Linked DNA regions of Homo sapiens. The gene in region 3 interacts genetically with the main gene of each other region. Each region holds a gene or a part of one and is shown on either strand. Other genes may lie near its edges. The genes, in order: CAMK2G, DBH and TPSAB1.

Region 1 (3,646 bases), on a different chromosome or scaffold from region 3:
AGACGGGGAGAACCATAGGAGAGTGATGAGGTTGGAGAAGCAGCAGGGCCTGCTACAGAGGCCCTTGTAGGAGTTTGCATTTTCTTCCAGCAGCAAGGAGAAGCTATTGGGAGTTCTTAGCAGGAGTAACAGAATCTAGTTGACACTTTAAAACACCACTCTGGCCTCATGATCAAGAACTCTAGGGAGGCCCGGGCGTGGTGGCTCACGCCCGTAATCCCTGCACTTTGGAAGGCCGAGGCGAGTGGATCAGCAAAGGTCAGGAGCTCGAGACCAGCCTGGCCAACATGATGAAACCCCATCTCTAATAAAAATACAAAAATTAGCCAGGCATGGTGGCAGGCACCTGTAATCCCAGCTACTCAGGAGGCTGAGACAGGAGAATCACTTGAACCCGGGAGGCAGAGGTTGCAGTGAGCCGAGATCATGCCATTGCACTCCAGCCTGTGCAACAAGAGCAAAACTCTGTTTCAAAAAAGAAAAACTCTAGGGAGGAGGTAAGTGTGGAAGTTAGGGAGACCATGAAGCTGTTATCATGGTTCAGGTGTGAGATGCTGGTGGCCTGGAGTCAGGTTGTAGCTGTGCATTGGAAGTGAAGAGGTAAGACATGGGGTTTACTTTGGAGGCAGAACCAGAAGATTTTATTTTAGATTGGGCGATCTGAATATAAGGGAAAAAGAGAAAGAGAAGGATTGAGGATGACTCCAGGTTTTAGCCTGAGTAACTGGGTAGATGGTGGCATTTACCAACTGGGGGAAGACTAGGGAGGGGATTTGGGAAGAGTCAGACAGCCAGGGTGGAAGCAGAACCTTCCACAATTCCTCCTTGCACCTCTTGTAGGAGCAGAAACTCTGCTTTTGTTCTGCTTTGCTCCTCTGGCTTCCAAGGGATGGAGCATATAGAAACATGTTCTTTTTGGCCTACAGGGCTCCACAGAGAGCTGCAACACCACCACAGAAGATGAGGACCTCAAAGGTAGGTGCTGGCCCTTGGAGGGGGAAGGACTCCAGCAGTGACCCAGGTACCTGGGCTCCAATGGGGCACCTGCCTTTTCTGTCCCCAGAACTGGGAATGCTGGCTCCTATGCCCCTAGGAGAGGGCTTGGTATAAAAGCTACTTTCCACGAGCCAAGATATGAGGCCCCTGTCTGGTGTTGCTGAGTTGGGCAAGAGGCTTCTCTTCTTTGACCCCAAGTCTAAAATAGCTAAGCTAGAGATTCTCCAGGGGCCAGGGCTCAGAGAACTGTTCCTGTTGCTGATAATGATGTGCCATCCAAGAACAGGGGTACCCCAAGTCCCTGCCGAAGTAGCCTGTAAGTGCTATGAGTCATAAATAGAGTGACCAATCACTCCTGGTTTTCCTCGGACACAGAACTTTTGGTTTTAAGACTGTGATGGGCCAGGAGTGCTGGCTCACACCTGTAATACCCAGAACTTTGGGAGGGCCAGGGCAGAAGGATTGCTTGAGACCAGGAGTTTGAGACAAGCTTGGGCAACATAGCAAGACCTTGTCTCTATTAAAAAAAAAAAATTAGGAACAAATAAATAGGCCAGGTGCGGTGACTCACACCTGTAATCCCCACACTTTGGGAGGCCGAGGCAAGTGGATCACTTGAGGTCAGGAGTTCAAAACCAGCCTGGCCAACATGATGAAACCCCGTCTCTACTAAAAATACAAAAAAAGGCCGGGCGTAGTGGCTCACGCCTGTAATCCCAACACTTTGGGAGGCCAAGGTGGGTGGATCACCTGAAGGTCAGAAGTTCAAGACCAGCCTGGCCAACATGGTGAAACTCCATCTCTACTAAAAATATAAAAAATTAGCCAGGTGTGGTGGCAGGTGCCTGTAATCGTAGCTACTCGGGAGGCGGAGGTGGGAGAATCGCTTGAACCTGGGAGGTGGAGGTTGCAGTGAGCCGAGATCACCCCATTGCACTCCAGCCTGGGCAACAAGAGCGAAACTTCTTCTCAAAAAAAAAAAAAAAAAAAAAAAAAATTAGCCGGGTGTGGTGGCGGGGTCCTGTAATCCCAGCTACTCGGGAGACTGAGGCATGAAAATGGCTTGAACCCGGGAGGTGGAGGTTGCAGTGAGCTGAGATTGCACCACTGCACTCCAGCCTGGGTGACAGAGCGAGACTCTGTCTCAAGAAAAAAAAAAAAAAAAAAATATATATATATATATATATATATATATAAATATAAAACCCAGATAGTCCTGGGAACACTGGGATGAGTTGGTCACTCTAGTCCTAAGATTTTGGCCTGAATGATGGAGTTGGAACTAATCTGACAACCGTGAGGCCACATTTGGTCATGTCCTGGTGGGCCCGTAAGGACCACTAGCCTAAGCTTGGGCCTGGCTAGAGTGCCAGGGCGGTGGGAGGGCATGGCAGGCTGGACCCCCGGGAATCTCTGTCCTGCTCTTTGATTGGGCCTCCTGGAATTGCTCCCTTTGCCTGAATTCAGTAAGTGACCTTGGGCCAGGACATCAGAAAAGACAGAGGAACACTCTAGGACAGAGCTGGGAGAGCATGCCCTGGGTGGCAAGGGGGCACCAAACCTTTTGGAACCAAAAAAAATAGCAGAAAGCTGCGAGGAAGTGAATCATAGTAGCTCCAGGCCCCTGTGAGTGAGGTCAGATCAGTTTTGATTCCGGCACTGCTGGCAACATAGGAGGCGCTGTCACTGCTGGGCTCTGGACCCTGTGGCCTGGCCCCCTGGAACATCTTCCCCGGGATCAGGGGTCCTTGGACAGGCTGTTGTAAGGCTCGTCTGGAAGCCACAGCCCAGGTCTGGGCACCTGCCTGGTGCCCTCAGCTGGGAGGCCTCTCTGGCAGAGGCGGCGGCGTGGGATGTCGTCCAGTGTCCACAGCAGCCTGAGGCGAGGCGTCCCCTTGCCCCGGCTCTGCAGCGCCATGGGCTCGGGGCCTGTCTGGCTTGCTCGCTCACCTGCCTTGTTCTGTTTGTTTTGGCTGCTCTGCCTTGCCCTGCCCTGCCCTGCCCTGGCTGGCTAGCTGCCCCGCTCCGCACTGGGAATGGCAGCTCGGTGCCTGAAGGACGGAGCTCCCGGGACAGAACAGCCCCCTCTGCAGGCATGCAGCCCCAGCCTTCTCTCTGCTCCTCAGCCAGTAAGTGTGAGGGAGGCACATTCTGGCTTCCGTCTCCCTGGCTCGTCCTGAAGCCCCTCAGGGACCCCCACCACAGCTGTCAGTCCCACCCACCTGCCCGTGGTAGTAAGCTCTGGGAGCATGGCCTCTGCTGGGGGTGGGGGGTAGACTGGAGGTGCTGTTGAGACCAGGCAGGGGCCCCTGAGTCTGGGGCCCAAAGAAATATGAGAAGTGTGGGTGGAAAAACATGGCCTGGGATGAGGGGAGTAGAAAGCCCCCAGGATGTGCAGTGGGCCTTGCCTCAGCGCTGAGCCAGGAAGAAGGGCAGAGTCGGAAGTCAGGTCTGTGGGGGTGGGAGTGGGATGATGGGGAAATCGTGACAGCGAGGAACTGTGTTGGGGATGTAGTGCTTCCTGAGTCTCAGCATAACAGTATTAAGAGCATGGGGTCAGAGGCAAGATAGATCTGAGTTTAAATCCCAGCTACACTGCCTTCAAGAGTGTGAAGTTTAACCTCCCAGAGCTGCAGGTTCCTTATCTGTA
Region 2 (3,646 bases), on a different chromosome or scaffold from region 3:
CCGGATGCATGGTGGACATGGTGGACATGGCGGACATGGCGGGGTGGTCTGGAGGGGCTGTGCAGCAGGAGGCTCTGCCCCCTGGGTTATGTACAGGAAAGGGATGTCAGGCGGCAAGGAGTGTGAAATTGACAAGGGGTTTTAATTCACAGGGAAGAGGCTTCTGATGAAGTTTAAGTAAAAAAACAAACAACAATGAAAAAAAAAGATATAAAATTCTAGTCACAAGAAAAAAATTAATGGGCCAGAAAAGCAGTCAGGACAGACACATAGCTGGGTGACCAGTGCTCACTTCAAAACTTGGAGCCGGGAGCTGGGGGGTGGTTTCATCTTCTTCATGCTTTTCTGCTGTCCATCTTCTCACCAGTGTACATGCATTGCCCTTTCTGATCAAACCAAGAGGGTGGTACAGATACTAACATCTTCCCTGGGTGCCAAAAATGCTCTAAGCATAACCTACCCCTTTCATGGAAGTTTTGCACAGTGAGAATCATCAGCCCTATTTCACAGATTAAGAAACTGAGGATGGAGCCTGAACTGAAGACTCCACACAAGACCACAGGGCTGGGAAGTGGCCAAGCTGAGGTTCAAACCCAGGGCTGTGGACTGGGGTGCAGGGCACTTCCAGGGGGCCCAACCATCTCCCTACTTGTTTCCTTTAAGATGAGGCCAAAACAACTCCTCTTGCCTCTGCCTTCTTCCCTCGACACCCCTACACCATCCAAACTCAAACGGCTCCTGTATCTCCAGGCTGATTACATCAGAGGATAATAATAAAAAGGGTGTTGCAATTGGTTAAAATTCAGATGGGGATTAAATCATGAAATAATTGTGGGATTTTGATATTTATAGAAAAGCAGCCCATCTCAAGATGGGTGAAGTGACAGGAGCGTCCTTATATTTGGCAAAGGATCCATAAATACAACCAGATAATCATGAAGAGACAGACTTCCCTGATGCTTCAGGAGTTTTCAAAAATCCATTTGCTTTCAGGGTTTAAATGAGCAATAAATCCCGTGTCATGCTAAGGCCCAAGCTGACTTATACCCTTCTCTGTGCATGTGGAGATAACTCCAACAGTGGCGGAAGGTATTACTTATGCAGCCAGGAAAAAAAAAAAAAACCACAGGCGACTGTTAGCTGAGCACAGCCCCGTGCCCACAGCAAGTTCTGTGCGTGAGCCTTTCCCAGCTTCACAATAGCTGTGGGAGGTGGGAGAACAGGCAGCGGGTGAGGTCATCCACCCAGCGTCCCCAAGGTGGTGAGGCACAGCCTAGCACCTATCTCTTAGGCCACTTCTGCACCTTGCACAAATGAAAAGAAGAAGCACCATTCAGAGAGAGAGAAAAAGTGTGTGCATGTGTGTGCTTCTGCGTGCATATGTGTACATGTGTGCATGTGTGTGTGCGTGTGTGTGTGCATTGTGTGCGTGTGTGTCTATATATGGTGAAAGATGCTGGTGCAACAGAGAGAGGGAAGTATTTTTTTCAGTTTCTGAGACAGCATCACCTGGCCTTGCCATGCTAAAAGCTGACCCTGCTCACTCCACCCTCAGGTATGGGTGATCCAACAGCAGCTGCCCCAGCTCCCCTTCCCGTCCCTGCACTCTGGCCAGGCCGGAGCGCCTGTGTCCTGGAATATGCCCTGCTTTACTACCACCTCCCTGTTTATGCACACACCTCTCCCTGTATTTGGAACTTGGCATCTGGCAGCTTCCCTTATGAAAATTCTCCTTGTCCTTTCCCCTGGGATGCACAGTGCTGCGCCGATGGCAGCCCGTATTATAGGGACGAGGAGGGAGGTGTGGGGCCACTGCTGGGCCCTGGCGAAGCTGTGAGGAGTGAGCCCCTCGAGGTCCTGTCCCTGGGAGCCCACCACAGCCATGGAAGATGGACAGCGGATGAGGCAGACGCAAGGGCCTCGTGCCAAGAGGAGCTGTACAGCGGGGGCACCATGCTGGGCAGACGAAGGGCGGGATTTGCTCACTGGCTCAACACAGCTGAGTCCTAGGGCTTCTGAGGAGGATGGCAGCAGAGCCGCCTACCTTCTATCACCAGTGGGTTGTGGTAGTGAACTTCCAGGCGGAGATATCTGGAGGACCCTGGACCCCCGAAGGCAAGGCCGGCTTCCTCTGGGTAGTAAAATGCCTGTGTGGGGCAAGGTGTCAGACAGACGGGTGTGTCCTGAGAGGGCCCCAGGTCTGGGCAGGGGCAAACCCAGTCAACTGTTGGGGCCTGAGCCTCAGGGGTGGTGGAGGGGGCGCAGCAGGATTAGAGCGATGCTTCCTCCTGACAGGCAGCTCATTACACGCCCCAGGAACATCCTGTGAGACTCGGGTCAGGGAGTTGGGGAGAGGAGCTGGTGCCTAGGGCTGAGCCTTCCCCCAAAACCCCTTCTCTAGACGGGTGTAAGAGCTGGGGAGACCCCCATCGTCTCAGCCTGTGGAGGCCTCAACACTGGCCCCACCGCCAGCCAGCCCTGGGACCACCTGTACACAAAACCCTGACTCCAGTTGGGAAACAGAATCAGGACCCACTGAGGGCATAAGGTCCTGCGGCACTTGCGTTTCTGTGGAAAATAAAAAAAAGGCTTGAAGCATTTCAGACATCACAGAGGCGAGGGGGCCACCTCAGGCCTGGCCCTTCTGGTGGCCTCGTGAGCCCCCTTGGGAGCCCCTTCTTGAAGCCTCTGAGACGGTGAAGCTGGGGAAACAGAGGTGTGGGGATGCCAGGGGCCCAGGCAGGAGACACCATGCTGGGGTCGCAGGGCACGCACCTTGGCACCCAGGGCCCAGGCGGCCAGCACGTGGCGGCAGTAGTTGAGGCGGTCGGGTTTCATCTTGGAGTCGCAGGGCCCGCTGAAGTGGGGGACGCTGTCCATCTCGGGGGCGCACTGGAAGACTTCCATGTGGTGGACAAGGGCCTCATTGCCCTTGGTGACGATGGGCTCGTACTGTGAGGAGGCAGCCCTCTGAGCCCGGGAACCGGCCGCCCACCCTCCCCTCCCCAGCAGCCCTCCTCCATGGGCTTCCGAATGCCCATCTGTAAAATGGGAGGGATGATCCAGACAATTTCAGGGGCACTTCTGGGGTTCACAGCCTTGAGGGTGGAGCCATCAGCCCAGAAAGAAATCCCGTAGGCAGCTCCAGAGTGAAGGAAATGAGGTTCGTACAGGCCAAGGCAGGGACAGGACGCAGCCGTCCTCATGCATATGGGGCTGTGGCCGGGCCAGCTCCTGCAGCCCCAGTGGGAGGCAGGGCAGCCCTGAGGTTAGAGCCCGGGCCCAAAGCGCACCTTCAAGGCCATGCCTCTTCCTGCTGTGTGACTCTGGACACTCACATAACCTCTCTGAGTGCACCTTCAAGGACATGCCCCTTCTTGCTATGTGACCCTGGACACTCAACCTCCCTGGGCCACACTTCCTCTGCTGGAAACTAGGGGCTCTTATGATGAAGGAGGGATCACCTCGCCCCTCCCCCGGGACTAGTGGCATAGTGGACACTCGACAGCTATCGCCTTTGCTATTCTGTCTTCCCCGGACGGGTGTTCGAGAGCAAGTGAGTTCTGACTCGAGCTGCTTTTTCATGAAGGGGGAGGTGGCCTGGCAGACAGACAGCAGTTCCAGTCCCAAGGAAAGATGCAGAAGT
Region 3 (3,665 bases):
GGCAGGTGGAGGCCTCTGGGGAGTTTGTCCAGAGAATGGAGGAGAAGCAGGGTCATGAGCAGGAGCGGTCTGGGCCACCCCTGCCTGTCCCCCGGGGGGTGCAGCCCGGAAGGAGTCCAGATGGATATGGCCCCGCAGTGCAGAGTCAGCCCCAAACCAGGCTGGTCCCAGGCAGGGTGGGGGCAGGAGGAGCCCCGGAGTGGCCCTGTGTTGGGGGTCGGGGGGCAGGCAGGGGGTCCTGGGGCTCAGAAGCGGAGGAGGTGGGCTGGAGGCCCCAGTGACCAACAGGCCCAGGGGAGTCGGGAGGTGGGGTGGACGGACCTGCAGGGACAGTGTCAGCGCTGAATGGGATGGAGAGCACAGGGAGCTGGGGCCGGGGATGAGACCATGGGGAGCTGGGGCTGGGGCTGGGACTAGTCCATGGGGAGCTGGGGCTGAAGTTGGGGGTGAGTCCATGGGGAGCTGGGCTGGGCCTCCTGGGGTTGCACCTGCACTCCTCTCTGCTCTTCCCTCTGCGTATGAAGCTCAGATCCCATGATAAGGAGGCACCTGCAGACCAGGGGACCTGCACGGACAGCCCCAGAGGTGGACATTGAGGACTCGTAGGAGGACTTGGGTCTCATACGGCGGGTGGGGAGCAGGGCCCCTTCCTGGCTGAGGACACTTGGTGCTGTCCCCTCTCAAGGCTGTTTCCCCATCTGACAAAGGGGTCTCACGTGAGCCCCCAACCAAGTGAGTCGAGGAGGGCTGGCCCCACCCCCGTGGATTCGGAGTCCGTAGGAGGGGTGTCACCCGTCATGTCCCCACCCCGTGGGCACCTTCCCGTCTCTTGGAGCGTGGCCCATGGACATGAGTTCCTCACCCGTGTCCCTCTTGGGGAAACAGGTTTCAGGAGCGACGGGTCTTGTAGCCTGGGGCAGCCAGGCCACCTGGGTGCAGCAATGCCTGAAGGCCTCCTGGCACCGAGACAGGGGCAGGAGCAGATCCCACCAGCGGGAAGGTGGTGGGTTCCAGTGCTGGGATCCACCAGCTGACAGGTGGAGCTGCCAGTCTCCAGTGCTCAGCCCTCAGCGGGGCCTGCCTGGCAGCCCCACACACAGAGGGCATCGGGGTGGCGGGGGCACGTGTTACACGGGGGCCCTGGGTCTGAGTCATCCACTTCCTCCGAGTCTGGATGGGAGGACCCAGCGCCCCTCCTCCGCCCCCTCCTGATCTGGAAGGATAAATGGGGAGGGGAGAGCCCACTGGGTAGAAGGAACAGGGAGCGGCCAGGGTAAGTCCCCACTCTCAGAGACCCTGACATCAGCGTCACCTGGAGCAGAGTGGCCCAGCCTCAGACTCAGAGCACCAAGACCCAGGCCCGCAGGCCTGGACCCACCCCGGTCCCCCCGTCCCAGCTCCATTCTTCACCCCACAATCTGTAGCCCCCAGCCCTGCCCTGTGAGGCCCGGCCAGGCCCACGATGCTCCTCCTTGCTCCCCAGATGCTGAATCTGCTGCTGCTGGCGCTGCCCGTCCTGGCGAGCCGCGCCTACGCGGCCCCTGGTGAGTCCCAGCCGGGGTCCACCCTGCCCCTCACCACATTCCACAGGTCAGGGCCTGGGTGGGTTCTGGGGAGGTCGGGCTGGCCCCCACACAGGGAAGGGCTGGGCCCAGGCCTGGGGCTGCTTCCTGGTCCTGACCTGGCACCTGCCCCAGCCCCAGGCCAGGCCCTGCAGCGAGTGGGCATCGTCGGGGGTCAGGAGGCCCCCAGGAGCAAGTGGCCCTGGCAGGTGAGCCTGAGAGTCCACGGCCCATACTGGATGCACTTCTGCGGGGGCTCCCTCATCCACCCCCAGTGGGTGCTGACCGCAGCGCACTGCGTGGGACCGTGAGTCTCCCGGGGCCTGGAGGGGTGGGGAAGGGCTGGATGTGAGCCCTGGCTCCCGGGTGCTCCTGGGGGCTGCCCAGGGCCCTGAGTGGGATCCTCCGCTGCCCAGGGACGTCAAGGATCTGGCCGCCCTCAGGGTGCAACTGCGGGAGCAGCACCTCTACTACCAGGACCAGCTGCTGCCGGTCAGCAGGATCATCGTGCACCCACAGTTCTACACCGCCCAGATCGGAGCGGACATCGCCCTGCTGGAGCTGGAGGAGCCGGTGAACGTCTCCAGCCACGTCCACACGGTCACCCTGCCCCCTGCCTCAGAGACCTTCCCCCCGGGGATGCCGTGCTGGGTCACTGGCTGGGGCGATGTGGACAATGATGGTGGGTCTGGGGACAGTGGAGGTGGGGCCAGGGTCTTAGCCACAGCCCAGCCCCTGGGCTCCCTCTGGGCTCCAGGTGGGGGTTGCCCGGCCCCCTCCTGAGGCTGCACCCTCTTCCCCACCTGCAGAGCGCCTCCCACCGCCATTTCCTCTGAAGCAGGTGAAGGTCCCCATAATGGAAAACCACATTTGTGACGCAAAATACCACCTTGGCGCCTACACGGGAGACGACGTCCGCATCGTCCGTGACGACATGCTGTGTGCCGGGAACACCCGGAGGGACTCATGCCAGGTGGGCCCCGCCTGTCCCCCGCCCCCCGCCCCCCAACCCCCACTCCCAGGCCTGTTCGGCGAGCGCTGACCTCTGACCTTCCCAGGGCGACTCCGGAGGGCCCCTGGTGTGCAAGGTGAATGGCACCTGGCTGCAGGCGGGCGTGGTCAGCTGGGGCGAGGGCTGTGCCCAGCCCAACCGGCCTGGCATCTACACCCGTGTCACCTACTACTTGGACTGGATCCACCACTATGTCCCCAAAAAGCCGTGAGTCAGGCCTGGGTTGGCCACCTGGGTCACTGGAGGACCAACCCCTGCTGTCCAAAACACCACTGCTTCCTACCCAGGTGGCGACTGCCCCCCACACCTTCCCTGCCCCGTCCTGAGTGCCCCTTCCTGTCCTAAGCCCCCTGCTCTCTTCTGAGCCCCTTCCCCTGTCCTGAGGACCCTTCCCTATCCTGAGCCCCCTTCCCTGTCCTAAGCCTGACGCCTGCACCGGGCCCTCCAGCCCTCCCCTGCCCAGATAGCTGGTGGTGGGCGCTAATCCTCCTGAGTGCTGGACCTCATTAAAGTGCATGGAAATCACTGGTGTGCATCGCTGTGTTTCTGGTTGTGGATGTCACTGGGAGAGAAGGGGTCCAGGTGTGCTGAGGACACCTGCCACAGTGTGAGGTCCTAGCCCTCAAGGCACAGCCAGTCACCGTGGGACGGGGCCTCCTGGGCAGCCCTGGTCCCCGAGGCTGGCTTCTCCCCACACGATGCATCCAGCATTCGGGTCACACAGAGCCACTCGGGCAACTCAGTTGATTATAAAGGACAGCCAGGTCCCTGCAACCGGGTCAAGACAGAGAATGGTCGCCGGGAGCCCCAGGGCTGCCCATCATGAGCCCCTACCCCACGCTTCCCACGAGCTCTTCTCCCGGCCCCTCTGTCCACTGCTTGTGCTTTGCCTAGTTGTTTGCTTTGAGACGGGATCTCGCTGTGTCATCCAGGCTGAAGTGCAGTGGTGTGATCAGGGCTCACTGCAGCCTTAACTCCTGGGCTCAAGCGATCCTCCCATCTTGGCCTCCCATATAGCTGGGCCACAGGCGTGAGCCACCACGCCCAGTTAATTTTTGTATTTTCAGTAGAGATGGGGTTTCGCCATGTTG

The links.
Region 1: changes in TPSAB1 (region 3) and CAMK2G together harm fitness more than expected from each alone (negative genetic interaction), as found in Homo sapiens cells (one large-scale study listed by BioGRID).
Region 2: changes in TPSAB1 (region 3) and DBH together harm fitness more than expected from each alone (negative genetic interaction), as found in Homo sapiens cells (one large-scale study listed by BioGRID).

The regions. Positions count from the first base shown.
Region 1 is NC_000010.11:73,819,011-73,822,656, reverse strand, and holds part of CAMK2G (calcium/calmodulin-dependent protein kinase type II subunit gamma), read left to right. Parts: intron 1-926; coding exon 927-975; intron 976-3,011; coding exon 3,012-3,125; intron 3,126-3,646.
Region 2 is NC_000009.12:133,642,719-133,646,364, reverse strand, and holds part of DBH (dopamine beta-hydroxylase precursor), read right to left. Parts: intron 2,953-3,646; coding exon 2,776-2,952; intron 2,148-2,775; coding exon 2,045-2,147; intron 1-2,044. UniProt on the Homo sapiens protein: Catalyzes the hydroxylation of dopamine to noradrenaline (also known as norepinephrine), and is thus vital for regulation of these neurotransmitters.
Region 3 is NC_000016.10:1,239,456-1,243,120, forward strand, and holds TPSAB1 (tryptase alpha/beta-1 precursor), read left to right. Parts: upstream 1-1,249; 5' UTR 1,250-1,273; intron 1,274-1,483; coding exon 1,484-1,544; intron 1,545-1,697; coding exon 1,698-1,869; intron 1,870-1,978; coding exon 1,979-2,244; intron 2,245-2,371; coding exon 2,372-2,535; intron 2,536-2,620; coding exon 2,621-2,785; 3' UTR 2,786-3,099; downstream 3,100-3,665. UniProt on the Homo sapiens protein: Tryptase is the major neutral protease present in mast cells and is secreted upon the coupled activation-degranulation response of this cell type. May play a role in innate immunity.